7 linked regions of the Homo sapiens genome follow. The protein of the gene in region 2 purifies or fractionates together with the protein of the main gene of each other region. This does not show direct contact. Each region holds a gene or a part of one and is shown on either strand. Other genes may lie near its edges. The genes, in order: ZC3H14, THUMPD3, NSUN3, SEC24D, WDR48, METTL5 and TRMU.

What was found.
Region 1: the proteins of THUMPD3 (region 2) and ZC3H14 fractionate together in Homo sapiens (co-fractionation; one large-scale study listed by BioGRID). This does not show direct contact.
Region 3: the proteins of THUMPD3 (region 2) and NSUN3 purify together in Homo sapiens (co-immunoprecipitation; 3 studies listed by BioGRID and IntAct, with this or other methods). This does not show direct contact.
Region 4: the proteins of THUMPD3 (region 2) and SEC24D fractionate together in Homo sapiens (co-fractionation; one large-scale study listed by BioGRID). This does not show direct contact.
Region 5: the proteins of THUMPD3 (region 2) and WDR48 purify together in Homo sapiens (co-immunoprecipitation; one large-scale study listed by IntAct). This does not show direct contact.
Region 6: the proteins of THUMPD3 (region 2) and METTL5 fractionate together in Homo sapiens (co-fractionation; one large-scale study listed by BioGRID). This does not show direct contact.
Region 7: the proteins of THUMPD3 (region 2) and TRMU purify together in Homo sapiens (affinity purification with mass spectrometry; 2 studies listed by BioGRID and IntAct, with this or other methods). This does not show direct contact.

Annotation. Positions count from the first base shown.
Region 1 is NC_000014.9:88,600,578-88,605,035, forward strand, and holds part of ZC3H14 (zinc finger CCCH domain-containing protein 14), read left to right. Parts: intron 1-1,346; coding exon 1,347-1,506; intron 1,507-2,250; coding exon 2,251-2,483; intron 2,484-4,458. UniProt on the Homo sapiens protein: RNA-binding protein involved in the biogenesis of circular RNAs (circRNAs), which are produced by back-splicing circularization of pre-mRNAs.
Region 2 is NC_000003.12:9,376,547-9,381,004, forward strand, and holds part of THUMPD3 (tRNA (guanine(6)-N(2))-methyltransferase THUMP3), read left to right. Parts: intron 1-1,272; coding exon 1,273-1,342; intron 1,343-3,956; coding exon 3,957-4,072; intron 4,073-4,458. UniProt on the Homo sapiens protein: Catalytic subunit of the THUMPD3-TRM112 methyltransferase complex, that specifically mediates the S-adenosyl-L-methionine-dependent N(2)-methylation of guanosine nucleotide at position 6 (m2G6) in tRNAs.
Region 3 is NC_000003.12:94,065,315-94,069,772, forward strand, and holds part of NSUN3 (tRNA (cytosine(34)-C(5))-methyltransferase, mitochondrial), read left to right. Parts: intron 1-4,458. UniProt on the Homo sapiens protein: Mitochondrial tRNA methyltransferase that mediates methylation of cytosine to 5-methylcytosine (m5C) at position 34 of mt-tRNA(Met). mt-tRNA(Met) methylation at cytosine(34) takes place at the wobble position of the anticodon and initiates the formation of 5-formylcytosine (f(5)c) at this position. mt-tRNA(Met) containing the f(5)c modification at the wobble position enables recognition of the AUA codon in addition to the AUG codon, expanding codon recognition in mitochondrial translation.
Region 4 is NC_000004.12:118,829,396-118,833,853, reverse strand, and holds part of SEC24D (protein transport protein Sec24D), read left to right. Parts: intron 1-116; 5' UTR 117-157; coding exon 158-275; intron 276-4,458. UniProt on the Homo sapiens protein: Component of the coat protein complex II (COPII) which promotes the formation of transport vesicles from the endoplasmic reticulum (ER).
Region 5 is NC_000003.12:39,057,874-39,062,331, reverse strand, and holds part of WDR48 (WD repeat-containing protein 48), read right to left. Parts: intron 1-4,458. UniProt on the Homo sapiens protein: Regulator of deubiquitinating complexes, which acts as a strong activator of USP1, USP12 and USP46. Enhances the USP1-mediated deubiquitination of FANCD2; USP1 being almost inactive by itself.
Region 6 is NC_000002.12:169,818,137-169,822,594, reverse strand, and holds part of METTL5 (rRNA N(6)-adenosine-methyltransferase METTL5), read left to right. Parts: intron 1-537; coding exon 538-652; intron 653-1,321; coding exon 1,322-1,503; intron 1,504-2,951; coding exon 2,952-3,034; intron 3,035-4,458. UniProt on the Homo sapiens protein: Catalytic subunit of a heterodimer with TRMT112, which specifically methylates the 6th position of adenine in position 1832 of 18S rRNA.
Region 7 is NC_000022.11:46,354,817-46,358,338, forward strand, and holds the end of TRMU (mitochondrial tRNA-specific 2-thiouridylase 1), read left to right. Parts: intron 1-627; coding exon 628-772; intron 773-1,173; coding exon 1,174-1,256; intron 1,257-2,025; coding exon 2,026-2,190; 3' UTR 2,191-2,524; downstream 2,525-3,522. UniProt on the Homo sapiens protein: Catalyzes the 2-thiolation of uridine at the wobble position (U34) of mitochondrial tRNA(Lys), tRNA(Glu) and tRNA(Gln).

The sequences.
Region 1 (4,458 bases), on a different chromosome or scaffold from region 2:
ACTGCGGGCATGTGCTCCCACGCCTGGCTAATTTTATTTATTTATTTATTTTCTGGTTGATGGGAGGTCTCACTATGTTGCCTAGGCCGGTCTCAAACTCCTGGGCTTATGGAATCCTTGTGCCTTGGCCTCCCAGAATGTTGGGATTACAGACATGAACCGCCACACCAGGCCACTTGATTTCTTACTAATTATAGACCAGAATCGAGAGTCACTGAGACATAGAAGAACCTTTATTATATGTGTCAGCCTTCCTTGGTATGTACTGCTGAGCCCACCACACACACCCTTCCAGCCATTCCACATTCTAACCTTTCTCAGATGCCTTCGGCCTTGTGAAAGCCCCTTTCCTTCTACGTGCGTTTTCCTCTGCCTGAAGTGCTGTGTTCGTTTCTCCGAGTCTCTCTCCTTGTTTATTCCTGCTTGTTCCTTTACTGCTGACTTCAGATGTTCCTCCTTGCTAAGCTTTTCGTTGGTTCTTGGCTGGAGTGGGCTGTTCTGTATTCTCAGCACCTTGTTCACATCCCTTTTGGGTCATGCTATTCTGAAATTGTATATGTGTCTGTTTTTCTTTTTTTCTTTGTGTATCTAGCTCAGTTCTCTTAGTTGTTCAGTAAATACTCAGTGAATGAACATAAATGAATACCCTGTAAATTTTGGTCTCTAAGCTTTAAAAGAAGTGTATTAACTTCAGTCCGTTGATGGCGTATTGATAGGTCAGCCATTCTGGGTTGTAGGTCTTGGCATATTTTATAAAATAGTAGATGATGTGAGCTTATGGTTATTTGCATTAAAGGCCAGTGTTTTTCTTGATACATATGTTTAAGTGTCCATTCACCTTTCAGTTACCTTTTAAAGTAGTCCTCGGTTTATAACCAACTGGAAATTATACCACTTGAATTCTTTTTATCAGGACATGATTCTAAGTGGTACTGTGCGAAGTGAACAAACCAGATTTTGGAAAAGTGGTTCAGCAGTCTGTGTATTCTAATTATAGGGAGCATTAGGACTCAAATTCTCCAGGTTTTTAGAAAAGATTTTTGTACTTTAAGGGTATATTGTTAATATCTGTTGAGATGCCTCACCTGAGAACCTTTCTCTGCTGTGGTTAGGGAGTGTTAATCAGAATCACTTGTGCCGTGCCCTACGCGAGAAGGACTCCTTGAGTTCTTTGAAAACATGTTTGGAATAGAATTATAGCCCTGTTTTCCTGAGTGGAACCAGTTGTGATTTTCCTTTGAAATAATTTGAATATATAAAAGATTGACATTCTTCTCACATATATAATGTTGGGAATGTAAGGTATATTCAAAAGTAAACATTTGTGGCCAATTTTTTTGGCTCAGATTACTATGACATGGAATCCATGGTCCATGCAGACACAAGATCATTTATTCTGAAGAAGCCAAAGCTGTCTGAGGAAGTAGTAGTGGCACCAAACCAAGAGTCGGGGATGAAGACTGCAGATTCCCTTCGGGTACTTTCAGGACACCTTATGCAGACACGGTAGATGGTTTCTTTTTCTTGTGTAGTTAATTTGTGTGATTAGATAGTAAAGGTTAACCATTCGTTTGCAGCTTCCCTCCTCCCCGCCCTAACCGCTAGCGTAGAGTGCTTTCATTGATTCAGTAGCTAGCCCATGAATAGTTAGCCAAATTCAGTTTTCAAGAATTCCAGTTCATCTTTCTTGTTCAGAAATCCATTAACCTACAAATTACAACTCAGTGTATGATTTAACTCTATTAAAGATTCTTTTCTTTATGCAAATTCAGGAAATGCAAGTTTAAAAGCCAGCTGACCATAATCAGGTCAGCTCTAAAGAGAGTTGGCAGATCAGGTTTGGGTGATTTTTCCCTTAGAAAATTGACTGTTTCTATAAAAGAAGAAACATACAGATAATTAGCATAAATGCTGCTGGCCCTTGTGTTCTGAGCATTGATGCTAATTTTTTGGTTTGTTTCCATGTTGACCCTATGAAGATCGAATGGGTGATGGGGTCAGGCTTGAGGGGAGATTGTCCTTAGTAAGTACAGGCTGGAGGGTCACTGGTGATGCCACTGTGACTGTTCATGGCCATCGTGTGTTAGCAGAGAACCCACCAGTGCTGCACCTGGTAGCCCTACCTAGTCTTTTTTTATTGAACCAAACGCAAAGCCAAGGGAGTGATAGTTCTGCTGAAGAGCACTTTAGGGGGCTCAGCGTTTTGTGTTTGTTTCCCTAATTCTATGGTATTTTTTATCTGTCTGGCAGAGATCTTGTACAACCAGATAAACCTGCAAGTCCCAAGTTTATAGTGACGCTGGATGGTGTCCCCAGCCCCCCAGGATACATGTCAGATCAAGAGGAGGACATGTGCTTTGAAGGAATGAAACCCGTAAACCAAACTGCAGCCTCAAACAAGGGACTCAGAGGTCTCCTCCACCCACAGCAGTTGCACTTGCTGAGCAGGCAGCTTGAGGACCCAAATGGTAGCTTTTCTAACGGTGTGTTGAGAGCTCAGATTTTCAGGGTGCTGTCATTGTGAAGGGAATCTTTGACTTGTTTCTCTACCTTGAATGAATATTGGTTAAAGGCCTTGCTTTTATTTATATTCAGTAATGGCCTTTTTTCTTCTTTCAGACAAACCCACCAAGTACATTTCAGACTCTTTTTCCTGTGTCTTTTTCATAGGTGGGCTGTTACTCCAGTTTGAAAACGGAGTTCAGCCATGGAACCTGAGAGACCTCTTCCGCTTATGCTGGCTAAAGGATGAACCACCATTCTTGTTGCCTTCTTTACCTTTGTATTTTCTTCAGAAACTGTACTGCCACTTTGCCCTTTTATCAGCAATAGTCTCTTGCAATTAACTTGAGAGAAAAATTTAGATTTGATGCTATTTCTACCTCAGTGAAATTTCTTTGAAAGGAGTTTCTCACCTAATCTATCAAGATCTTGGAACTGTTTAAATTAATGTTGAAGAGTAATATTTAGCAGAACTCAGATGAACTCATTTCAGATAGCACCATAGTTTTTGGCAGGTGACAGTTTCTTATCACCGTTTCTTTCACTGGGTATCAGTGGTAGCTGCAACGCCACTGATCATTTCCATTCATGATAGAGAATGGTAATTATGTTCCTTATATCTTCTAAAATATTTAGAAGCACCTCTTCATTGGCAGGAGGGATAATTACTCAATCTTAAAAGCGTACAGATTCAAAGGAAAAACAGTAATGGATTTTGAAACATTTCCTTGAGTAATCCTCTTCTTGGAAGAGATATGAAAATGTATTGAATACCTTTCTCGATCATTAAAAATAGAATAGACTTCAGAGGGAAATCATATGTTAGTGGAGCAATAACACTTAGCTTTATTTTAATTGGTTGCGTTTCCTACTGTGAATCAATGACGTAGTGTCGTGGTTTTGATTAGTGGAGGGAGTTGAAAATCTGACCCTATCAACAGGAAGAAAAACTTAAAAAATAGTAAAAGCTGCAGTAGGCAGTCCCGATTTATTGACTCTGTATGTTTTGTCTAAAGAGAAGACTCCAGTGTTTTCACTACTCTTGATTTTCAATTTGGTACCTTAATTTTTTGGTCTATTAGGATCTGGTTTCATTTAAATGTAGGTGTCCATATGAGGCTTTATGGGGTATACATGTAGCAGCAGTGACACCATAAATAATATGTTAGTAAAAATTCTTGCCAGTGCTGTGGCCATTGTGCTGACAGCCATGATGAGTGGTGAGCCTCCTTTCCCATTGCTTTGACTGGGGACTCAGTGTTTCCCTGCTGCTCAAGGATGAAGCTTTGTAAGATTAGCATAGGGGTGTGGCTGGAGAGACTCCTGCAGAACAGTTCTCAGGAGTCTCTAGTCTCTGCACCACTTCCCCTGTGAGCAGGGAGTTTGAAACTGCAATTGCTTCTGGTTGGTTTTATGTTGGGTTGTTTCAAGGATGCTACCAACAACAACATCTGTTTTAACCTGCTGTCTTTTCACTCACTGTCATATGGCAGCACAGATTTTATAGCTTGCTTTCTTTGTTTTTTTTTTTTTTGAGATAGAGTCTCTCTGTCCCCCAGGCTGGAGTGCAATGGAGCCATCTCAGCTCACTGCAACTTCTGCCTTCCAGGTTGAAAGCCATTCTTCTGCCTCAGTCTCCCAAGTAGCTGGGATTACAGGCATGCACCATCACACCTGGCTAATTTTGTAGTTTAAGTAGAGACGGGGTTTTACCATGTTGGTCAGGCTAATCTCCAACTCCTGACCTCAAGTGATCCACCAACCTCGGCCTCCCAAAGTTCTGGGATTACAGGTGTGAGCCACCGTGCCTGGCCTATAGCTTTCAATAAAAGGTGAATTTGCCTCTTAAAATTTGAACAGAAAGTTTTAATAGTTTACAAAGTCGGTGTCAGCCAGTGAAGACTAGGGGCATGACCTTCGTATGACTTAATGTTTTTAAAAGAAAGATAAAGTTTC
Region 2 (4,458 bases):
CAAGGATTCTATTGCCATGTGTTGAGGAGTAGGAGCAAGGAGATAGAGCAGGACCAATGTTACAATAAGAACCCACTATTAACCCCCAAGAATCTGTCTTGTGAGGGAGATAAATAGTTATCATACATGCGATAAGTCCCACACCAGCACATGAAAAGATTAGAAGAACAAGAGAAGGGAAGAAACCTACTGACCTGTTTCAGGGTGGGATGCTTCATAAAGAGGATAACAGTTAAGCCACTAACAGTAATGCCTCTAATCTTGAATCTGTTACCTACTAGTTTTGTGTCCCTGGGCAGGTAACTTCATGTTTCCTTGCATCAGCTTACCTTTAAAATGAGAATAATGATAATTATCTAACAGGGTCCTTACTGAGGATTCTGTGAGATAATGCATGGAAAGAGCTTAAGTCCATGCCCAGGAAATACTAAGTGCTCAAAGTAAAGCATTTTTTTTTCCTTTTTTTATTACCTAGTCCCACAGAGCAATTTTTTTATATCAAGATTAGCTTTAAATTCAGAAGGAAAGGAATACTGAATGTCTCATTGCCAGTAACCTTATATTGATGCATGTTTGACTTGAGACATTTTTGAGTCTTTTTAATGTAATACAGGTTTCTGTTGAAAACAACACTGTTGTCAAAAAGTATGCATGAGCGTGTGTGTGTGTGTGTGTGTACACATGTGTACTTTAAGATGTCTGCAAACTAAATTTCATCTGAGAGTGAAATGGGATTTTGGAAGATAGTCAAAGGAGATTTAGTTATAAGGATTTTTTTTCCCCAAGTAATGGAATATACAGTCAACATATCATTATAAATTGATTTTATTTATTTATTTATTTATTTTTGAGACGGAGTCTTGCTCTGTCACCCAGGCTGCATCTTACATGATCTTGGCTCACTGCAATCCCCGCCTTCTGGGTTCAAGCAATTCTCGAGTCTCAGCCTTTGTACTAGCTGGGATTACAGGCACCCACCACCACGCCCAGCTAATTTTTTGTATTTTTAGTGGAGACGGGGTTTCGCCATGTTGGCCAGGCTGGTCTTGAATTCCTGACCTCAAGCGATCCACCCATCTCAGCCTCCCAAAGTGCTGGGATTACAGGCGTGAGTCACCGTGCGCGGCCACAAATTGATTTCTAAAATATGTGTAGATTGGTGTTCCTTCGGGCTAGTGTGGTAGGTCCTCAATCTTAAAGCTTCAGGAATCATCAGTATAGAAGCCTCAGCTTTTGAGTGAGTCTTCACATAGGCTGTTTTCTTTTCTCTAGGCTCTGTGATCCTCTACCTTATGATATAATAGTCGATCCAATGTGTGGAACTGGGGCAATACCAATAGAGGTAATCATATTTCTTTAGCTTTTAGATAAGAGTGATACATCCAGAATATTCTAGACCTAATGGGCAAATTAGACATAATGAAATCTCCATGGTTGGATCAGTGGACCCAAGAGTTTTAAAACAATTAACAATAGAAAGTGGAACTTTTTTGTAAAGAATGTAACTACTTATTTCAAAGAGCCATGTGCCACTGGCCTAGATACATTGTTAGTGACATCTATTCACTAGATTACAGAGGAAGCTGAGAATTACAAACTGCCGATGAGTCCTCTTTGTGTAACAGACAAGCTGGTAGACTTGAATGGGAAAAGATAATTGAAGGCATAAGCATAAACTGGAGGAAGGCAATTTTCTTCTCTGTAATCCACTTAAGTTCCTAGAGGGAATAAGTATAGTTGTAAAAAGGGGAAACTTATGAACATTACTTGGATTTTTTAGGAAGTCTAACAAGCTTAATACCAAATGCTCTTAGTTTTCAAAATTACCATGATATTGAGAGGACTCATAAAAACTGTGTAAAGCAAAGCAAGAAATGGAAAGGCATTTTCTAAATGGAGAATATTTCACAGTAGATTCCCCTTGAATAATCAGTATCATCTATATGTTTTTAAAGAATTTAGAAGAGGGAGCTCCCAGTAAAATCACTGAAGTTTGTGTGAAACATAGTAGTTCTTCCATATAGTATACTGACAGCCAATTTGAATAAACTGCAGGGAGACACAGCAGATTATATGATTGGGTAGAAACTGGACAGATGAGCAAGTCCAAAGCAAGCCCACAAGGGGAGAAATAATCCAAACTGTAATTAGAAAATGGTATCTGTTCTGGGAGTTAAAATCCAAGACTGAAATCATAGAAGTCTACATGTGACTGTGTTCCGTGAAAGCTAGAGAAATTACTGTGGCTTAAAGAGACTGCACAGTAAAAACCCAGTCCTTCTTGTGGCCAAGAAGGATTCTGGGAAGAAAGCAGAGTGTTGTTTTCTAGTATGAAATCATGATATGTGTATGAAATAGCAGGTAAGGTCACCGCATGTCAAGAAATACACAACAGAGCTCCGAGTAAAAATAAAGGCCGAAAAAAATTAAAACATGAAGTTTGAGCCATTTCCATGTAAGAGTAGACATGCAGATGTCAATGTAGAAAAACCTAAGCCGATATATGATCAAAATGAATAAAATTATGAATAAATTGACAAGGTATATATAAAGATTTGTTCACCAAAGTATAAAATACTTGATCTAGAATAATTTTTTTTTTTAATTTAGAAGTGTTATGCTATAAAACCCAATTCTTTCCAATGCTGAAAATCCAAATAGGTTTAGGAAAAAAAAAAAAGAATATTTGGGAATCGGAATCACTGAGAGCCTTCCTCAAACTCTAGGTCCCCTCTACATCCCCACCCACCCAAAATTCTGGGATACTTCAACTTCCCTTTTGTTTGATGTCATCGTAGGATTGTAGACAGGGTATGTTATCACCCTCAAGTGTCTGGGCAAAAGAAAAAGTTATGAAACACTGCACTCATGGATGAGAAGTATGTTACTGTTCACAAAGGAACACAAAGGTGTTTGCTACTCACCCCTAAGCAGAGGCAGACCTTTCCCGGCTTTCGTGTCAGAAACCTTCTGTTAATCTGCATAGAACATTGTTCAGGCCTAGGGTCACGTCACCTCATTCCACAAATGACATGTGACAGCTTGGTATTTATGTTCTGCTGACAGGTTTTTTATTTATAATTACAAAATCCTTCCAGTGATATGGTGGTTACCATTCAAAAGCCTATCATACAAAGGAAATTGCATTTTACTATTATTTTTTTGACCTGGGGTCTTGCTCTGTCAGCCAGGCTGGAGTGCAGTGGTGTAATCTCAGCTCCCTGCAACCTCTGCCTCCCTGTCTTAAGCCATTCTCCCACCTCAGCCTCTCGAGTAGCTGAGACTCAGGTGCACACCATCACACCCAGCTGATTTTTGTGTTTTTGTAGAGATGGGCTTTCACCATGTTCCCAGGCTGGTCTCAAACTCCTGGGCTCAAGAAATCCTCCTGCCTCAGCTTCCCAAAGTGCTGGGATTTCAGGTGTGAGCCACCATGCCCGGCCGGAAATAGCATTTTATTTTGCAATTTTCAAATATATCAGATTATGTAAACTCCCACAACCACAAATCTCAAATATTTTCAAACCGCATTAACTTAGAATTTAGTGTGCCAGACACTGCTGGATGAGGAACTGAATAAAATACTAGACCTGACCTCAGAGAGCTCCCAGGTTAGTTGAGAGGCATAAAGGGGAAGAAATAATTAACCGTGGGACAAGTGCAGTGGCAGAGGTACGTACATACAAAGTGTTTTTGGGAGGGGCACATAAGACTGCTTGGAGAGTTAAGGTTGATGTTGAAAGGGCATGAGGTTTGAGCTGGGTCTTAAGAGATGGGTAGAGGTTCAGCAAGCAGAGAAAGAATAAGAGGGCATTTTCAGCCAGGGAAATAGCACAGTTGACAACATGCAATGTTTTGCCACTCTAGAAAAGCACTGGATTTTCTTTGTTTGTTGACAATTTAATCATATTTTACAGTTTGCTACTTTTGTTTTAACATACACTCTTATCTTTTAGGGGGCCACTGAATGGTCTGACTGTTTCCATATTGCTGGTGATAATAATCCACTGGCTGTGAATAGAGCAGCAAATAACATTGCATCTTTATTGACCAAGAGCCAAATTAAAGAAGGGTAAAAATTTAAAAGATTTCTTAGCATCTTTTAGAGTTAGAGAATCACTTTTTATATTGACTTTATGAATTAAAACTCCCAGTGCATTGTGACGTCATTGTAACCAAAATGAATATACTATGAGACTCCATTTACATTTTTAAAGTTTATTGAAAATAAGTTATATTTTTAAAATATTATTTTAGCGATAATTTCCCCACCATATGCAATTTTTCATTTGTCTTATTCATATGTCTTTTCCCCTACATATTGGAAGAATATTTTATAGACTCATTTTAATTTCACAAAATTTTAAACAGTATATTTTTACATAGGCTTCTTTTTTGCTTTGGGTACAGGGTCTCATTTTGTCACCCAGGCTGGAGTGCAGTGACATGATCATGGCT
Region 3 (4,458 bases), about 85 Mb from region 2:
GTGCCAGCAAAGGCCTGAAGGGAAGCTGGGTCTTGGTGACTTAGAGGAGTTACTTTGACAAAAAGAACTAGGCCTCCTAGGTTGAGGGAAGAAGGTGCACTGTTCATGAAGTTAGGGCAAAAGCCCACTACATGTTGCATGAGGAAAAAAAGTTGCATGGCTACAGATATTATCTGGAACTTGGTCCAGACTAATTTTTCAGATGGTTGGCTTGTCCATTTTTTTCTTGGATCAACTCTTAAGCATTTCTCCTTTACAAAGGGCAGTTCTGAGCATTTTCTAAAACAAATTAAGTTTTGGCTAATAAAGATCACAAAGTCTGAGGTGATTCTGAGATAATTTTAGGACAATTAAGCTGTTATAGAAATTGGTAAATGCTGTAATATGCAAACCGTTTATACTCGTGGGTTTTATTTCAAAAGTAGATTTTCAAATGGGTATTTTCTGTCACAGAGATGAAGAACTGAATAATAAAGTATGTAATAAATTTATGAGGTTTTCAGTATACAAAGGTACTCAAATAGAGTATCCAAATAACCAAACACTTATTGCATGTTTACTATATGCCAGACAATACTGACTTACATGATCCTCAGAACAAACCCGTTAAGAGTTTAAGTAATTTGCCCAAGTTCACTCAGCTAATAAGTGGCAGAGCTGAGGCTTGTGCCTGGGTTGTCTGACTCAATAACTCCCACAGCTCATCCTTGTTCTGTACTGTCTCATATCTGGGATGTGATTTAAAAAAAAAAAAGATTTCAAGAGGCTTTTTTTTTTTCTGTAGACTTTGTAGCAGTCTGGCTACTCATATCCTATAATGACTTATTTTTCTACTTAGTGTACTCAGAAAGTCATATACTATTATTTGACCCTGAGCAAAATGAGCAATGAACCTCAAATCCATTTAATTAGCTGTGCCTTCTGCTTCATTTACCCTATTGTGGGGTTTTTGTGGTAATTTAAGTTTTGCATAAACACACACTAAATTTGCCATAGGCAAAATAAAGGTTTCTCAGCTTAGGAAGTAGTCTGAGCATGGAAGATGGTATGGGGAAATAAGAACAGAATGAAATATTTTGTGTTTTAACTGCTTGTTTGCAAGACATAATGTACTTGTAGAGTCTACTTCCAGGGAAAGTCAAGTGCTCTTTTTTTGGCCTATTTAGAAAGTAATTTATTCAATATTTTTAGTTTCCTGTAGTAGTGAGGAAGATTTAGTATTTAGTTTTGCTCTTTTTTAGTAACCTTTCTTGTCTAGTCATCCTCTGAGCAGCCCTTTAAAATTGGAGTTTACCCTGGTTCAATTCTTGCTCTATTTGTTGCCTCCATGTTCTCCTCAGGTAAGCCCATTCATGGCATGACTTTTATCAGTATGCTGTCATCTCAAGCTGTGAGGTTCTTCCTAAGATTTAGTCCCATACTTCTGTTTTTTAGCAACTTCAGTTACTTGGCAAACTCAAAAGTGTATTATTATTTTTCCCTTTCAAACTTATGTTGCCTTTGCTACCTGCATATTTTATCTCAATTAAGTGTATCACCATCAGTCTGGTTTCCTCCTTTCTTCTCTATACCTTCACTACCTTTGTAGTAAAAAATGAACCTTATATAAAAATAGGTCTGGCAACTGCCCTCAGCTCCTGGGAGGCGATCTCTAAGCCCTTGGAATGTGCTTCCTGATAAGTGTGTCTTTGTTTACCTGGGTGTTGAGGTCACACCTGATAATCTAACGATGTGATTTATGTTGAGGCCTGGGGACCACAGGTGTCAACTCAACATCCAGAAGGGCTTGTGACTAAAAGCTGTATGGACAGTCAATCATATATACGTGACCAAGCCCCAATAAAAAGTGGATACCAAGGCTTTGGTGAGTGTCCCTGGTTGGCAATACTCTTGTGCATACTGTCATACATTACTGCCAGCAAAAGTTGACCTCGTTGATGATTCCGTTGGAGAGGACAGCTGGAAGCTTCATGCTTTGAATTGTTGTGAATTCTGCACTATGAGTCTCTTCCTGTGATTGTTTTTAATCTGTATGCTTTCATTATAATAAACTGTGACTATAACTGTGATTATAACAGCTTTCAGTGAGTTCGGTTGTGTCCCAGTGAATAATCAAACCTGAGAGTCATCCTTGGAATCCCTGAACTTGTAATTGGTGTCAGAAGTGAGAGTTGTCTTTGAGACTCAACTACCCTGCCCCCTTTTAATTTGGATCTTTTTAAAAAAATTCTCTACTGCTGCCATTCACTTAGACCTTCCCAATCTCTTATCTGGCATATTGCAACAGCCATGTTTAGTACTTACCTGTTTGCTTATTTTAGCAACCACTTTTATGGCACTATGTACCAGTCAATGTTGTAATCACTTTATGAATAATAACAATCCTATGTACAACCCTCTGAAATAGTTATTTCCATTTATATATAGGAAAGCTGAGGCACACAGAGGTTAAGTAACTTGCCCAAGTATACACATCTCACACTTTAACTTGCCCAAGTATACACATCTAACACTTTGAAGAGCCTTGAGAGTTTGTTGTACCCACTCTGTCATGCTGTTTCTCGGTGCTACCAAATTCCATTGTGTCACACCTTGAGTACAAACCTTTGCTCCCCAGAAGTCTGCAGTATTATGTTTGGACTAAAAATCTTATCTTTCTGGGCAGGCTCCTTCATGCCTTTGGGACTGGCTATGCTGTTCTTCTGCTAGGAATGCCTTTTTCCCTTCTCCCTCTGTGCAGTAGTGTGGGTTCAAATCCCACCTCTGCATCTTGTAGCATATGACCTAGGTGAGTTAATATCTCTGTGCTCCATTGTCCTCGTCTGTAAAATGGGGAAAAAATAGTATCTATTTCATATAATCATTTGGGAAGATAAAATGAATTTGTGTATATACAATGTGAATGGAATGTTGTTTGACGTATAGTAAGGACTTCATATGCATTAGCATTATTTTTGTTACTATGATTAACCACTTCATCAAGCCTTCTGTATGTCCCTTGGCAAAATTAGTTTTGCCCTTCGTGTATCCATTGCATTTTGTTGATAGAGCTATTGTGATTCTTTCAAGGTTTTATCGTCATAATTTACTAACTTGCTTATCTTTTTCCTGACAAGGGAGGGTTTTGAAGAACCAATACCTTGAGACTTGGGCAAGTCTTCTGCTTATTCCCAGTTTTGTCAGTGTTTGTGTACTAGGCATTGTGCTAAGCACTGAGAATACAAAAATGGACTGTATATATCCTGCCCTCAAATACATGTATGATTAATTGGATAATTAATGGATACTTAATAAATGTATGATTAATATAAGCATTAATTAGAAATATTTATTAACTGTGGAAATTTTACATGTACTTTATAGAAAGCAAAACAAACAGACCATATAAGTCTGAACTGTCTGCAACATCTTTTTTTTTTTGGACACTCTCCTCACTGACCGAGAGTTCACATACAGAGAGGAAAAAAAAATACACACACACACACACACACACATACACACACACAACCTGATAATATTACCATAATCTGTGAAGGATGTAGACTGAGGTGGTTAAGAAAGAGAGAAATGAACCAGTATCTAGATTTCTATATTGTCCTATATGTTGGCTTTACACACATTTTCAGCCTTAATCTGTGCAAATCTCTGTGAAGAAGTAACTTTTAGACACTTTAAAGTCAGAGGTTAGAACAATTGATAGGTATCTTGTAGTTGTGGCAAATTCAGTCCTGTGACTTAAAAGTCCACGCCTTTTCCTATACCATCTGTGCTGCTGTGAAGGGTCCAGAGTTGCATCCTTCCAAATGTATGCTCAGATCCCGTAGTATGAAGGACTCTTATGTTCAGGATTTTTAGCCTTTTGATGTTCCACCAGAAACGCAAAGGATTTCCTATCTGAGGTACAGTGAATAACAAATCTGGACATAAATTGCCCTTCTGTGAGATACAAGGAAGATCCATTGCCAAAATAGAATAGGAAGCCATCAGCTCTTCGTTAGCATCTCTGAGGAGTAAAAATAAAATGACTCAAAAACATACTTTGGTGCATTTCCATAAATTGATTTGTTTTTCATTTCTAACTTTTAAAAGAGTTGAATGAGCACCCTCTAGTGGATAATAATAGCACTAAATCAAGGAATTTCTCTTTTTTAGCTATGGAAATTTAAATAGGTTCTGTAATCTACAGGGTTATATTAATTGTGTTTAACAATTTCTAGATTAAATGATATTTTTCATCTTCGTCACTAGGACGGAAGGTAGGGTGGAGAGTAGAGTAGTAGGAAAAAAGAATAAAGTCACAGAAAAGTTGAATGAAAATTATACTATCAAATAATAAACATTATCGAAATGATACATTATACAGTTTTGCAAAATTTTAACTTAACTAGCTTTTAATTTTTTAATGCTTTAATTTTGTTAAAATAGTAAGTAGTTCAGAGAGCCTTGAATCAGAACTCC
Region 4 (4,458 bases), on a different chromosome or scaffold from region 2:
GATATCTGTACTTTTCCTCAAACCATCATAAACATGTAATAACAGTGTTTATATTTTTAATAGCTTTACGTAACTAAAACTGTCTTGGTAACATGTTTCTTGTTTCTCTGTTGCAGACTTCTTTTGTAGAATTATCCTATGGAATGATATTTTCATAATGAGTCAACAAGGTTACGTGGCTACACCTCCGTATTCTCAGCCTCAGCCTGGAATAGGCCTTTCTCCACCTCATTATGGGCACTATGGGGATCCGTCGCACACAGCATCTCCAACAGGTACAGTGTGTTATTTTGACTTGTATGTGATTATTCAGTTCTCAGGCTCAGAGACATAAGATGTTCTGAAAGAGGAGATTTGAAAGCATTGAATGATCATTATATAATGAAATGGCTTGAGATTACAGGATCATTTGGAAAAGGCTCTCATAGCAGAACTCTACATCACTAGTTTGGTTATTGCATGCAATACAAGTTTGGTTTTTAAATATAGACTAAAACAAACACTTCCTGTTTTATTTTTACTGTGAGTCTTGTTCTTGCTGTTAATTAGTGGTGTAAGGCTATTGTAAACATTGAATAAAAAAAGAATTAAATTTATAAATGAATTAAATTCACATATCCTTATCTAGGATTGGCCCTAGATAAATCTGTACATCATGTGAGGATAATTCTTTGTACAATTCTTTGTACAAATGGACCATGTATAAATCAATGAGTAACTCTCAGGGCTCACTGGAACTAGCTTAGATATCTGGGATCCAGGCTGTGCTAGGTAGAATGTATATAGTGCAGAATCAGCAAGGGGTGAGGACTCCCTTTAGTGAGGCTTGATGTTAGCAGCCACACACAGTGTGCTGCAGAAGATGCTCTGAGATTGTGAATTTCCTGTGGAAAGTCAGTCTTATGATTTATTCTTCCCGAGATTTTAAAGATGTCCAGATGAAGCATCCCTCTTCTTGTTCAGGACCATCCTCTCCAGAATGTTTGTAATCTTGCCTTACTGGATCCTGTAGAAACCATTAACCCCTTCAGTTTCTAACTGGTGGTTCATTTCTCCTCAGCATTTATTTATAATGATAATTATAAATTATTCCTTTTTATGATGTGTCGAAATCTGGCCCTAAAAGCTTTTCCTGTATTGTCTTATTTAATCCTCATACAATGCTATGCAGTAAGTTATTTTTGCAGCTAGGAAAACTGAATGTCTGGTGTCATGTGACTTGTCTAAGGTCACAGACAGCAAGTAGTAGCACCAGGATTCATACCCAGATCTCTCAAGAAGGCAAAAAACAAATTGCATACACACCTAAGTATAACACTCTATATTATTCACCCTTCCCTCTTCACAGGCATCTTCTTGAGAAAGTACTCACTATGCTTGGTAATCTCCACCTTTACCTCTCCTTCCCTCCATGGCTCAGCATAGTTTACACTCCATAGTTTGCCACCCCATCCACACTTTCACTTCCCTCACCAGGACTATCAGTGTCCTATTTCTCAATGCAGTAGACATTGTGCTGTCTGTCCTCTTTTGTATTTGACTCTGTTTACCACTCTCATTTTTACAAAACTCTTTTCTCCTTTGGTTTCAATGACACTATCCTTTTGTTGTTGTCTTTTGAGGTGGAGTCTCCCTCTGTCGACCAGGTTGGGGTGCAGTTTTGCGATCTCAGCTCACTGCAACCTCCGCCTCCTGGGTTCTAGTGATTCTCCTGCCTCAGCCTCCTGGGTTCTAGTGATTCTCCTGCCTCAGCCTCCTGAGTAGCTGGGATTACAGGCGCCCGCCACCATGCCTGGGTAATTTTTGTATTTTTAGTAGAGACGGGGTTTCACAATGTTGGCCAGGTTGGTCTCGAACTCCTGACCTCACGTGATCCACCCGCCTCCACCTCCCAAGGTGCTGGAATTATAGGTGTGAGCCATTGTGCCCATTTTTTTGGGTTGCTTTCTGGACATTTCTTTTGAAGGAATTCTTCTACATGACTCTTAAGTGTTGCTGTTTCTCCCTCCATGTTCCATCTTCACTACTGTTATCCCACTCTGTAGATTTTTCCCTAAGCTGGATCATTCACAGAAAGTGCTTGTCTCTCAGATCTATTTCTCCAGCCCAGATGCCTCCCCTAAGCTCTAGACCAGGGGTATCCAGTCTTTTGGCTTTCCTGGGCCACACTGGGAGAAGAATTGTCATGGGCCACACATAAAATACACTAACAATAGCTGATGAGCTAAAAAAAAAAAAAATCAAAAAAATCTCATAATGGATTAAAAAAGTTTTCAAATTTGTGTTGGGCCATATTCAAAGCTGTCCTGGGCTGCGTGTGGGCCGTGGGTTGGAAAAGCTTGCTCTAGACCCATATTTCCAGTTGCCCACCTTTGTTGAGGCACGTCACAGTCACCATGCCCAAAACAATTCCATATTCATCATGGAAGCCTATGTTTTCTGGCATTTCAAATCTCACTCATTAGCATCATTTATTTCGTGATCCATACCAGAAACTTTATTAAAAAAACAAAAAAACAAAACTTGGTGGGGTGTGGTGGCTCACACCTGTAATCCTAACACTTTGGGAGACCAAGACAAGTGGATCACTTGAGGCCCGGAGTTTGAGACCAGCCTGGCCAACATGGTGAATCCCGGTCTCTACTAAAAAAATAGAAGATAAAAATTAGCTGGGCATGGTGGCACATGCTTGTAATCTCAGCTATTTGGGAGGCTAAGGCATGAGAATCGCTTGAACCAGGGAGATGGAGGTTGCAGTGAGCCAAGATCACGCCACTGCACTCCAGCCTGGGGAACAGAGTGAGACTCTCTCAAACAAACAAGCAAAAAAACCTCTCCCTCCTTTTTATCTCCTCCAATGTAATCGGTCTCCCAAATCTTTTTGGAGTGATTGTAAACAGCTTTCCTACCTGCTTTCTCCTTTCCATTCTCCTGTCACTCTTTTTGTTCAATCCATCCATCTCTCACATGGATTACTAAAATGATCTTGTAACTATTATCCCTCTCTCCAATACTGTCTTTTTCCAAACCATCAACTCCTGAGCCAGAGGGATTTTTTTATACCATGCAAATCTAATTTGAATTCTTTTGTATTCTAATACTTTTTCAGGCCTCTATACTATTTGCCATACTGTGTTATAATAGATGTTCCTATAGTAGATGTTCCTGGAGCAGAGAAGGCACTCATGGCTGTTTTTAAAAAAAAAAATTTTAATTGGCAAATAAAAAATTATATATACATATATATATAATGTACAACATATTGTTTTGAAATATGTATACACTGTGGAATGGTTAAATTGAGCTAATTATAAATGTTTATTCAATGAAGTGGATGACAAACTGTAGCACTCATTAGCAAAACACTCTGGTATTTACCAATATTTAATTAAATTAAATTAATTAATTTATTTGAGACAGGGTTTTGCTCTGTTGCCTAGCTTCCAAGTAGCTGGTAGAGATGGGATCTCCCTATGTTTCCCAGGCTGGTCTTGAACTCCTCAGCTCAAGTGATCCTCTCGCCTTGGCCTCGCAAAGTGCTGAGATTATAGGCGTTAGCCTCGGCACCTGGCCTTACCAGTGTTTTTAAAAGCTGTCTTTGTTGGATTAAATCCTTCATGCTTTAGTTTAAACTGCTTTCTCCTTACTTAATGGCTATTAAATATCAGGTGAATAACCAGGCTATTATACTCTCTGCAAATATATCTTTCTATGCATATTGTGGTGTTTTGGTTTAATTATTTAAGACTTTCACTAAATTACTCCAGCTCTTATATCTCTGATTATATTCTGCTGAATAACCTTAGATACCTTAATCTTCAGTCTTCCTGTGTCTTCTTGTCTAGCCTTTTAGTGACGCTTTTATTGGTCTCCTGACAGACACAAGCAAACTTATTGTGGTTCTTTGAAGTATCTATTCCACTGTAGATCTGGCCAGTGCTAACTCTTGCTTTGTGTTGCTCACATTATCGTATCTCCATTTATGCTTATTCATTGTGTTTTTGTAAAGCTAGTGCTGTATACTAACACTTTTTTTTTTTTGAGACGGAGTTTCGCTCTTATTACCCAGGCTGGAGTGCAATGGCACGATCTCGGCTCACTGCAACCTCCGCCTCCCAGGTTCAAGCGATTTTCCTGCCTCAGCCTCCTGAGTAGCTGAGATTACAGGCATGCGCCACCACACCCGGCTAATTTTGTATTTTTAGTAGAGACGGGGTTTCTCTGTGTTGGTCAGGCTGGTCTCAAACTCCCGACCTCAGGTAATCCACCCGCCTCGGCCTCTCAAAGTGCTGGGATTATAGGCATGAGCCACCGCGCCTGGCCCCTAACACTTTTTTTTAAAGAGACAAGGTCTTGCTCTGTTACTCAGGCTGGATTGCAGTGACGAAATTATAGCTCACTGCAGCCTTGAACTCCTGGGCTCAAATGATCCTCCTGCCCCAGCTTCCCAAGTGGCCA
Region 5 (4,458 bases), about 30 Mb from region 2:
TAAGCTGGCTGGCAGCCAGAAGTAAAACTTTCTAATGTAATGAAATAAACAGTTAAAAATTAACTCAAGATGGACTAAAGACTTAAATGTTAAGACTTAAAACCATAAAAACCCTAGAAGAAAACCTAGGCAATACAATTCAGGACACAGGCATGGGCAAAGACTTCATGACTAAAACACCAAAAGCAATGGCAACAAAAGCCAAAATTGACAAATGAGATCTAATTAAACTAAAGAGCTTATGCACAGCAAAAGAAACTATCATCAGAGTGAACAGGCAACCTACAGAATGGGAGAAAATTTTTGCAATCTACCCATCTGACAAAGGGCTAATATACAGAATCTACAAAGAACTTAAACAAATGTACAACAACAACAACAACAAAAACAACCCCATCAAAAAGTGGGCAAAGGATATGAACAGACACTTCTCAAAAGAAGACATTTCTGCAGCAGACACAAGAAAAAATGCTCATCATCACTGGCCATCAGAGAAATGCAAATCAAAACCACAATGAGATACCATCTCATGCCAGTTAGAGTGGCAGTCATTAAAAAGTCAGGAAACAACAGATGCTGGAGAGGATGTGGAGAAATAGGAATGCTTTTACACTGTTGGTGGGAGTGTAAAGTAGTTCAACCACTGTGGAAGACAGTGTGGCGATTCCTCAAGAATCTACAACTAGAAATACCATTTGACCCGGCCATCCCATTACTGAGTATATACCCAAAGGATTATAAATCATTCTACTATAAAGAAACATGCCCACGTATGTTTATTGCAGCACTATTCACAATAGCAAAGACTTGGAACCAACCCAAATGTCCATCAATGATAGACTGAATTAAGAAAATGTGGCACATATACACCATGGAATACTATGCAGCCATAAAAAAGGATGAGTTCATGTCCTTTGCAGGGACATGGATGAAGCCAGAAACCATCATTCTCAGCAAACTATCACAAGGACAGAAAACCAAACACCACATGTTCTCACTCGTAAGTGGGAGCTGAACAATGAGAACACATGGACACAGGGCAGGGAACATCACACACTGGGGCATGTTGGGGGGTAGGGGGCTGGGGGAGGGATAGCATTAGGAGAAATACCTAATGTAAATAACAAGTTGATGGGTGCAACAAACCAACATGGCACATGTATACTTATGTAACAAACCTGCACGTTGTGCACATGTACCCTAGAACTTGAAGTATAATAATTAAAAAAAATTATCTCAAGTACCTATAGTGATTCTATTAGGAACAATTATACCCTTTCTCCACATCTTAAACCAAAAACGAATTTTTCTATGAATTAAAGACTGAAATTTAATAACCATAAAAATAATTTTTGTTTTTATTTTTTGAGAGAATCTTGCTCTGTCACCCAGGCTGGAAAGCAGTGGCCCGATCTTGGCTTACTACATCCTCTACCTCCCAGGTTCAAGCAATTCTCGTGCCTCAGCCTCCTGAGTAGCTGGGATTACAGGCATATGCCACTGTGCCCAGCTGATTTTTGCATTTTTAGTAGAGATGGTGGTTTCACCATGTTGGCCAGGCTGGGTTTCAAGTGGTCCACCCGCCTCAGCCTCCCAAAGTGCTGGGATTACAGGCGTGAGCCACTGCACCTGGCCAGCATAAAAATAATTTTTAAAAGACAGGTGAATATTTACATAGTCCCTTGCCAGAGAAAACTCTTCCAACATGCCAAGAAAGATGGTAATCTTTACGAAGGAAAAGAGCAATGGTGATCTGGCCAAATACAAGTCAAAACCTTTTCTATGTACAAGAATGTTCACAGCATTGTGGCATTCACAATAATGTTACAAAAGTGGAAACAACCCAAATATCCATCAATGGACAAAACAAATAAAATGTGATGTGTGTGTGTGCATATATATATATATATATGCACACACACACACTGTACTGACACATGCTATAACGTGGATGAACCTTGAAAATGTGCTAAGTGAAAGAAGCCACATATTTTACAAAAGGCCACATATTTTATGACTCTATTTATATATAATGTCTAGGATAGACAAATCCACACAGAAAGTAGATTAGTAATTGCCAGGAGATTGAAGGAGGGAAAAATGAAAAACGGGGAGTAATTGCTAATGAACATAGAGTAATTAAACATTCTGGAGTTAGGTGACCAATAAACAACTTTCCGAATATACAAAAAAATCACTGAATTGTACACTTTGAAAGGGTGCACTTTATGGTATGTGAATTTTATCACAATGTTATTATTTTCTTAAACCTTCTGAATGTCAAAAAGTAACACGAGCAAGACTAAGAGAATAATGAAATAAATATGAAAGAAAGTTTACTCTTAACAAGATTCCTTATAAAATAAGAAAAAGTCAAATTTACCAACAGAAAGAGGGACAGTTACAAAAAGGGACTTTTTAAAAAAGAAATGGCCAAAAACCCCATAAATAATCAAAGACAAAATTAATATGAGATTATTTTACCTATAATACAAGAATTTTTTAAAATAACTGCCATTTTTGTTTCCCCTGAGGATAAATAAACACTTTCTGACAAAAGTTTTAAACTCTTTGAAATGTTCTTTAAAATTCAATTTCCAGAAATTTGTCCTTTAAAAAGGGCCAGGGCTGCAGACACAAATAGCTACAAGGATGTTGTTTTAACCCAGTCTTTTGGATGCAATTAACTGTAACTGAGATCTACTCAAACCAGCTTTTGTTTGTTTGTTTGTTTTTTAAAGGAGACTTCAACACAAGGATATCTTAACAGAGCCCAAGGTCAGGAAATACAGTCATCATTTATAAGAGGCATTTAAAAAATCAAATCATGACACTTCTCTGCTGAAACTTTCCAATGGCTTTTCACAAAATTTAAAGTTCAAACTCCTCAAATGCTTAGTTCTGACCCTGCATCCCCCACTCATTTCAAACTGACTGCCCCCAGCTTCTTTTATGACAGTCATTCCAAACTCCTTTCTGTTACCGTAAACACATCAAGCTCTTTCCCATCCCAGTACCTTCTCATTTACTGTTGCCAGTGTCATGAAGATTCACCACCCCTCGAATCCCTATAGGAATACTCTTTCTCCAGCTTTCATCTTGTCTAACTCACCCTTACTCTTCAGATCTTAGGAGAAAGGTCTCCTTGGAAAGGCCTTTCTGATCTCATTCTCCTCAGGGTTATGACCCTATCTATCTTACATTACTTATTTAACAGTTCTTACCACATTCTGTATTTTTTTTTTTTTTTTTTTTTTGAGACGGAGTCTCACTGTATCGCCCAGGCTGGAGTGCAGTGGTGCGATCTTGGCTCACTGCAACCTCTGCTGCCCAGGTTCAAGCAATTCTCCCAACTCAGGCTCCCGAGTAGCTTAGATTACAGGTGCCTGCTATGGCGCCCAGCTAATTTTTGTATTTTTAGTAGAGACAGGGTTTCGCCATCTTGGCCAGGCTGGTCTTAAACTCCTGACCTTCTGATCCACCCACCTTGGCCTCCCAAAATGCTGGGATTACAGGTGTGAGCCACCGCGCCCAGCCACATTTATATTTTTTGGTGTATCTTCTCCATTAGAATAATAGCTCCAAGAAGGCAAGGGACTTGTCTGCCTTGTTCCTTCCACCCCTGTGCCCCCATTATAGTGTCTGGCATATAAAAGACATACGTATCATTGCATGAATTGGCTTTCCAAAGCCACCAGGAACCAAGCTAGCTTCAATGTCAACTTCAGCCTCTCTCAATCTCTCTTTCTCTGGGGTTCCAGGGCTGCTTACCTAGCTCACATTTCCTTTAACTGAGACTGTGCAGCATATCTAAATCTTGATATCCAGACTTCTGGGAGATTATCTGACTGGTTAAGGCAAGAGTGAAAGAATAACCTGAATGTCAGAATTCTCATTCTAGGTGGAAAGTAATTACTGTTAAAACCAGTCTGGGCCAACCTCTTCAACGGTATTTCCTAAAGACGTGTGCTTTAAAATGCAAAAGAATTAGAAGTATCCTAGTTGGATAAATTCTAGCACGCACATCTGTAAAACACAACACTATTCAATCACTTAAAATGTTGATGTAGGCCAGGTGTGGTGGCTCATGCCTGTAATCTCTGTGCTTTAGGAGGCTGAGGTGGGAAGACTGCTTGAGCCCAGGAGCTTGAGGCTGCAGTGAGCTATGATGGCACCACTGTACTACAACCTGGGCAACAGCATGAGAGCCCTGTTTCTAAAGAATAAGAAAGAGTTGATGGAGGTCTAGACTGATAAACATGGGCGGAAAGCCATGATATATTTTTAGTGAAATATGTGTGGTCCAACACAACAATGTACAATAGTCATTATTATAAAAATGTTTCAAAATATTAAATATTTCAGAACAAATACACAAGTTTTGAAGACTATACATATATAAAAATAACCAGGGGCCAGGCGCAGTGGCTCATGCCTGTAATCCCAGCTTTGGGAGGC
Region 6 (4,458 bases), on a different chromosome or scaffold from region 2:
AGATTCTATGTCTTTGTGATGCTAATGCTTGTTTGATAGTGGTTCCTAGTCTTATAGATTTCACAGATAAGTAAAATTTCAAAACAATTTTGGAAATTGATAGAGTTGCCAAATTTATGTTGACAAAAAAGGATTTTTTTAAAAACTATTTACTCTTACCATTCTTTCTTAAAAATATTTCAGCATCAAAGAAAGAACCGATATGAGTATATGGCAATGTTTTTAACAAGCTGAGGAAAAACTAAACGTTTTGACTTTTTTTTATTTTACCTCAGAGACTGGGCACAGTTTTGTCATTCTTGGCATTGCTAGCAGAGACTATTTTTTGAGAAACACTGGTGGGTATTAGCTTCCTTTATGGTGCCTCTTACTACATACCAAATCATTACCCCTTATCTTTTACAAAAATAATCTGGAATGGCATTTGGGGAGGACTAAGTAATGCAACACAAGAAATTATTTTAGAAAGAGTCATTTGCACAAATTAGATTTTAGTCACCGGCTTGCTTACTTATTCTTTTTTTTTTTATTTTTTAGCATGTATGCTCTATACAATCCATAACACTTATGATGACATTGAAAATAAAGTCGTTGCAGATCTAGGATGTGGTTGTGGAGTACTTAGCATCGGAACTGCAATGTTAGGAGCAGGGTACGTAATGCAATATATGCTATTTGGGTATTGGGTGGCTTTAATAAGGAGCATCAATGGGATTAACTGAATTATATTTATGAGACTCCACAGAATGAGATATAGGGAGCAAAAATCTGATACTGAATACATTTTGAATGGGCAGAAGATCTAAACAAACTACAAAAATTAAATAAAAATGGTGAAAGCAGCAGTTCCTTTTATACAAACCTGAGTTTCCAACCCCTGCCGGGTTTGGAAATTATGCTGTTACACTTGACTGGGCACAGTGGCTCATGCCTGTAATCCCAACACTTTGGGAGGCCAAGGTGGACAGATTACTTGAGCCCAGGAGTTTGAGACCAGCCTGGGCAACATGGTGAAATCCCATGTCTACAAAAAATACAAAAATTAGCTGGATGTGGTGGTGTGCGCCTGTGGTCCCAGCTACTTGGGAGGCTGAGGTGGGAGGATTGCTTGAGCAGTGCAAGATGGCACCACTACACTCACCTGGGTGGCACAGCAAGATCCTGTCTGAAAAAAGAAAAAAAAAAAGAAGAAAACACTCACTCTTACTTTGCTAATTGGGTTAAAAAGATATATGGTTTAAAAAAAAAACAGCTAATTTTGGTTTTGTTTTTACTTGGGAGCTATAAGTCGCCACTCTTTGTATGTGTTTTGTATTTATAGGTTGTGTGTTGGATTTGACATAGATGAAGACGCATTGGAAATATTTAATAGGAATGCAGAAGAGTTTGAGTTAACAAATATTGACATGGTTCAATGTGATGTGTGCTTATTATCTAACAGAATGTCCAAGTCATTCGATACAGTAATTATGAATCCTCCCTTTGGGACCAAAAATAATAAAGGTTTGTAACAAGAATCGGGTATATTGGTATATTTATAGAAAAGATTTTAAAACCATTTTTAAGGCCAGGCGCAGTGGCTCAGGCGTGTAATGCCAGTGCTTTGCGAGGCTGATACAGGAGGATCATTTGGGGCCAGGAATTGGTAGCCATCCCGGGCAACATAGTTAGACCCTGCCTCTACCCACACACACACACACACACACACAAATTTTAATTTCCCAAGTGTGGTGGTGCACCTATAGTCCTAGCTACTCAGAAGGTTGAGGTGGGAGGATCACCTGAGCTCAGGTATTCGGGGCTGCGATGAGCCATGAATGTGCCACTGCACTCCAGCCTTGGTAACAGCAAGACCCTGTCTAGAAAAAATTAAACAAAAATAAAAACCATTTTTATCACTGTTTGGGCTAAGTGATTTTATCACTCTTCATTAAATAAACCAAGGCTAAGTGATGTTATTACTCTTCATTAAGTAAACCAATCTCTTATTTGTATAGTTCTTATAATTTACATTTCAATTTGTTTAATGCATGGCTAAGAAACTGAGTTTTTCAACTTTCATTTTTACAAATTTGTATTAAGTAAACAAAGATAGTCATGTCATTTATTGTATATCTCCCATTTGCTTTCAGGAATAATTTGCCTAACCCTTATGAATGAATACGAAACATAGAAAGAATTTTATACTTTCAGAATCTGTTTTTTAATGTCTTAACAGACCCAAGGGTTTCTACATGTGCCCATCAGTAACAGTGACTCACCGTGGCTGTTAATTTTGTGTGTACTGTGGGCAAGGAGGTTAGGAAGTCAGTGAGGGTAGGAAAAGACATGCATAGTTTGGCCGGGCGTGGTGGCTCACGCCTATAATCCCAGCACTTTGGAGGCTGAGGTGGGTGGATTACCTGAGGTCGGGAGTTTGAGACCAGCCTGACCAACATGGAGAAACCCCGTCTCTACTAAAAATACAAAATGAGCCAGGCATGGTGGCACATGCCTGTAATCCCAGCCACTAGGGAGGCTGAGGCAGGAGAATCACTTGAATCCGGGAGGCGGAGGTTGCGGTGAGCTGAGATCATGCTATTGCACTCCAGCCTGGGCAACAAGAGCGAAACAAAAAAAAAAAAGACATGCATAGTTTAAAAAGTACCCTGCCCCCACCAAGATGATTCTGAATAGTACTCTATGCATTTCCTTCTCCCCTTTTTGAAGTCATTAATGTTGGAATATAATATTAAAATTTTTACTTTATCCTTATTTAACCAAGACAGTATAATTCTGGTTTTATTCTACCAGCCTTAAAATAATATTTTGATAGTTTATTTGTACCCTTATTGCTAAAAGATTTCAAGGTGGCTATTTTGAAGTTTGGAAGAAAATATTTCTAAATCCTACTAACTTAATCTTCTGTTTTGAGAAGAGGTAAATAGGAGCTTTTTTTCTACTCTTCACAGGGACAGATATGGCTTTTCTAAAGACTGCTTTGGAAATGGCAAGAACAGCAGTATATTCCTTACACAAATCCTCAACTAGAGAAGTAAGTTCAAATCATCTGATATTCTGTGGCATTGATTTTTAAATTCATGACAGTGTTTTTAGGATTTGCTGTGAATACTAGATACCACAGTATCTATTTCTCCTGACCATTTTGACATGTGAAACTTAAATTTTCCACTTAACCAGCTAGCATCTGATTGGCCTTTTTCCAGGCTATAAGACTTATTTCCTCAAAGATTTTTTTCAGACAGGAACTGTTGCCAGAGGAGAGACTATAACTCAGGAGTAGAAAAGTGTGTTGTAACTAGGATTACTGTATGTTTTGGTTTCTCTGAGTAAGTCTTAGTTGATCCCTTTTGTCCCATTGTCCCGGTGTGGCCTGATGTACTTAAGGGAGGCAGTAAGGCCAGGTTTTCAGAACACTTGAGCCTGGAGCTAAACAGATCTGAGTTCAGAAATCACCTATTCTTACTTTTGCAGCATATAACACATGGAGAGGTGTATAAGTTGTAGTCCAGGAAACTGGGGGAAGGGGCAGTACATTTTTTTAGTGTCAGTATAACACAATAGTTAGGAACAGAGATTCTGAAGCCAGACCAGATTCTCTGGGTTCAGATCCAAGTTCTGCTGCCTCCCAGCTGTTTTCTTGGTCAAGGTAATTGAGTTTCATCATCAAGGTAATTGAGCTTTTGTCATCTATACTATCCTCACCTGTACTCTAAGTGTAAGGGACTGAGAGTACCAATTGTACTTCATAAGAATTGTGAGGATTACATGAGTTAATATTTACAAAGCACTTAGATCAGTGTCTGACATGTGTAATTGCTATGTGTTAGCTATTATTATTTAAATCATACATGTATTCAAAGATTTTAAAGTGCTTTTGTAGGAAAAATACTTAATTCATGTAAATACAGTACGTAAGAACCCAGTTGGAAATAATACATTCTAGTTACATGGTAATGTGATAACCTTTTAAAAAGCATAAAATATAACAGCTAAAAAGAACTATACTGCTAATAATAAGTAGTGGTACATGTAGGCAAGCAACAGGACACAACATAGCTAGTAAATAAATCCTCACTCACTATATATGAAAGCAAACACCAGTAAACATTGGTATCCAAACCTGTGTCCCCAAGAACACCCTCAGGTTTGATGATTCACTAGGAAATCTCACAGGACTCAGCATCTAGTCTTATTCATGGCTATGATGTATTACAGTGAAAGGATATAGAGCAAAATCAGCAAGGAGAAAGGTGCATTAGGCAGAGAATGGGGTAAACCAGGGCCAGGCTTCTGGAGTCTTCTGCCAGTAGAATAACACAGGACACAATTAATTTTCCCAGCATGAATTATTGATAACACATGTGAAACATTGCCAACCAGGGAAGCTCATTAGAGACTCAGTGCCCAGGGCTTTTATTAGGGACTGATCATGTAGGCAATTCCCTTTCTGACACA
Region 7 (3,522 bases), on a different chromosome or scaffold from region 2:
TGCTTCAGGGGCGGGGCTTGGCACAATCCCAGGAGGTGCCAGGTCTCAATGGCCCGAGGCCATGGGTGGGTGACAGGGAGCAGGGGCCTCAGAACCAACCTAGGGTATCTGGGGCCCCCCAGACCAGGGCCAGTCCTGGGGCACCTGTGGGAAGCCAGCAGCTACCAGTCCCTCCTTTCTCCTCAGCCATTTGGTGTGTGGAGGAATTCCTGGGGTGGCCTTGAGAGAAGAGCCCGTGGTGTGGCTGGCCCCTGTCCCTGCGAATAGAAAAACCAGTCCTCGAGGGGGGCCGTGCTGCTGCCCCACAGGTGGTTGCAGGTAGAGGGCCTGAGTCAGACTTGAACCTGCAGCATTCACTGTCATGGGCTCGGATCTCACCCCTGCCTCTTGCCCACTCTGACATGGTACTTCCTTCCTGGGCCTTAGTCTCCTCATCTGTAAAATGGGGATTCAAAGGCCCGGCGGGTGATGAGATGAATTTCTGTGGGTAGAACACTTCGAGCGGTGCCAGCACCGTTACCTGTGTGTGTGTGTGCTGGTAGGACAGTTGTTCCCAGGGACCACACTGAGGCCGGCCTTGGGGCCAGGTGCCCCTCGGCGTCCCCACCTTCACATTCCATTCTGCAGGCCCCCCGGACAGACCACCCAGCCCTGTACAGGGACCTGCTGAGGACCAGCCGCGTGCACTGGATTGCGGAGGAGCCTCCCGCAGCACTGGTCCGGGACAAGATGATGGAGTGCCACTTCCGATTCCGCCACCAGATGGCACTAGGTGACTGACGGGAGGGCTCCTGAGGACGGGCCCCTTGAAGCTGAGCTTCCTGAGGCCAGATTTGGGCCAGGGATGGGAGACCCTGGGGTAGGAAAGTCCCGTTGTGGAGATCATTTGGAGATTACCTAAAGTATTTAGAACTCCCGTGTCCTGTGCCTGCCCTGAGCGAGGCCTGGGGGTGCTGGGAGCAGATGCAGGCAGGCCCCGGCGTGTTGGGCTGAAGCAAGTGTGTACACTGCCCCGCAGTGTCCTGCTGCGTCCAGGGCCCAGGCTGGTGCCCTGCCCTTCCCCTCTAAGCAGGGGTTTTTGACCCCGTGGGCTGGTGCTCCTTTCTCCCTGGGGGCCTGAGGTCGACCAGGAAAGGCCTGTGCCCCCTCCAAGGGCCCCTCTCTTCTACCCAGTGCCCTGTGTGCTGACCCTCAATCAAGATGGCACCGTGTGGGTGACAGCTGTGCAGGCTGTGCGTGCCCTTGCCACAGGACAGGTGCGTGGGGTGTGGGGGTGAGCCCGGGGAGGACTGTACTGCTCTGCACCCTGCCAGGGCACCCGGGTTACAGAGGAAGGGGCTGAGGCCCAGGAGTAGGGTGTGCTCGGGTCACACAGCTGGTGAGGGCAGAGTGCCACCAGCCCTGCCCTGGGGGCTCCTCCCACAGTGACAACTGTGAGAGGATTTCCACTCTGGTGTCACCAACCAGCCAGTTCCTGCTCGGGCCCTGAGAGGCTCAGCTGCTGCCCGGGCCCCAGAAGCGAGGACAGAAAATGGAAGGGGCATGAGGACAGTGCTCAAAGAGGCAGAGGGTCGGGGCCCCTGTGGGCCGAGTGTGCAGGAGCTCCCAGGGTGGGCGCCTGGTGGGTGTAGGCCTGAGGAATCTCCAGGGGCAGGTGGTGGGAGGGAACCTGGGGTGAGGGAAGCGGAAGCATCCTCTGGCTGCCACCATGCTCCTTCCTGTCACAGCTCCACATTCCCAAGGGGTGCAGAGACCTGCCAGTCCCTTGGAGTCCCAGGAGAGGCCCCTGTGACTGTCCCACTCAGGGAGAGGTACCCTGAAGACCCTCCCTAGTGAAGCCACTGGGTGCCCCAGGCCTCTCCTCTCCTGTTCAGCAGCAGCAGCAGCAGCAAAACCCTGCTCCCCTGGGAGCTCAGTGCCTGGTGCTCCGAGCACAGGCCAGGCCCCATAGGGGAGCACTCTGCCCCTGCCTGCCCTCGGCTGGCTCCCTGTGGCACCCCTGATGCCAGGGTCTCTCCCCTACAGTTTGCTGTGTTCTACAAGGGGGACGAGTGCCTGGGCAGCGGGAAGATCCTGCGGCTGGGGCCGTCTGCCTACACGCTCCAGAAGGGCCAGCGCAGAGCTGGGATGGCCACTGAGAGCCCCAGTGACAGCCCAGAAGATGGTCCAGGCCTGAGTCCCTTGCTCTGACAGAGATGGATCTGCTAGAAGGAACCTGGAGAGCAGGACCCATGGCTGGGCGGCTGGTGAGCAGTCCAGGTGCCCAAGGGCCAGCTTGCTGCTGCCCAAAGCAGAGGAAGCCGGGCTGGCTGAGGGTCCGAAAAGCCTGCAGGGGCCCGGCGAGCCCCAGGAAGAGCCTCAGCTCCAGGCTGGGGCTCTGGCTGCTGGAGCATCTGCTGGCTGGTGGGGTGGCCCGAGTTCCCCTTCACCGCCCCCAGGGAGGGTTTCCCACCTCAGAGTACACCGAGGGGACCTGCAGAGGGGGCTGTCGGGACAGCGTGGAATAAACATTATTTCAAGGACACATAGTCTGATCGCTGCTTCCACTGGGGCCCAGGGGGCTCCACATCACTGACTCCCTGGCGTGGAAAGGCAGGTGGACTGCAGACGCAGCCATGGCAACCTGCGTACCTCTCCCTGAGGTCCCAGCTGCTCCATCCTCTGCCCCCGTATCCCTGCTCCTGGACTCCAGAGTAGGTGCCTGCGATGCTGACCTGTGTCCTTGGCTCTCTTCCTCTTGCTGGGCTTGAGTCCTTCGTAGCGTGTTGTTGGTGCCTCAAGACAGGTTCCTGCGGGGACCAGAGGTGCATTCCCCTTCTCTGGGTGGGAAGGTTCCAGAGGCAGCCAGGTGGTGCGCAGAGGGCCTTGCCCAGATGCCCTGAGTTCTTGCTGGTGCGTCAGGGTGGGGGCTGCCATGGGGCCCACTGTCCATCCTGACCCCTCCTCCCATCTCCCCACTGGGTGTCCCCTGACCTGGGGCACCCTTCCTTCTAGCCTAGGCCCCCACGCAGCAGGGAGTGTCCTGAGGGTGAGGAGTGGGCCAGAACCCCGCAGGCCAGGTGAGGAAACGGGGCCTAAGGTGGAGCCGTGGCCCTTGCTGGGCTGGGGTGGGGAGGTGGGGGGTGTGGGGTCAGTGCTGCCCTGGCCAGGGGCAAGCCCCAGCTCTACCAGGCAGGCAGAGCGCTGGCCAGTGGGACCAGACAGGCCCCTGGGGATCCTCGGCCCAGCTGGGCATGGAGGCCGAGCTAAAGCGCCGCGTTTGTTCTGCCAGCTCAGCCCAGCACGGAGCCTCCCTGGGCTCAGGGGTTCCCTGATTTATGGCTGTGGTCGGGCCTCCAGCCTGGGAACTGAGGGTGGGAGAGCCCTTGTGGTGCCTACTGCTCTGCCCTAGGTGAACCCTCCCAGGTCACAGAAACATGAGTAGGTGGGAGGTGGGGCAGCCAGGCAGAAGGTGGTGTGGGCACCAGGCCAGCAGCGCTAAGGCTGCCCCCGCTCCAACCTCCAGCGGGCTCCACCGTCCTG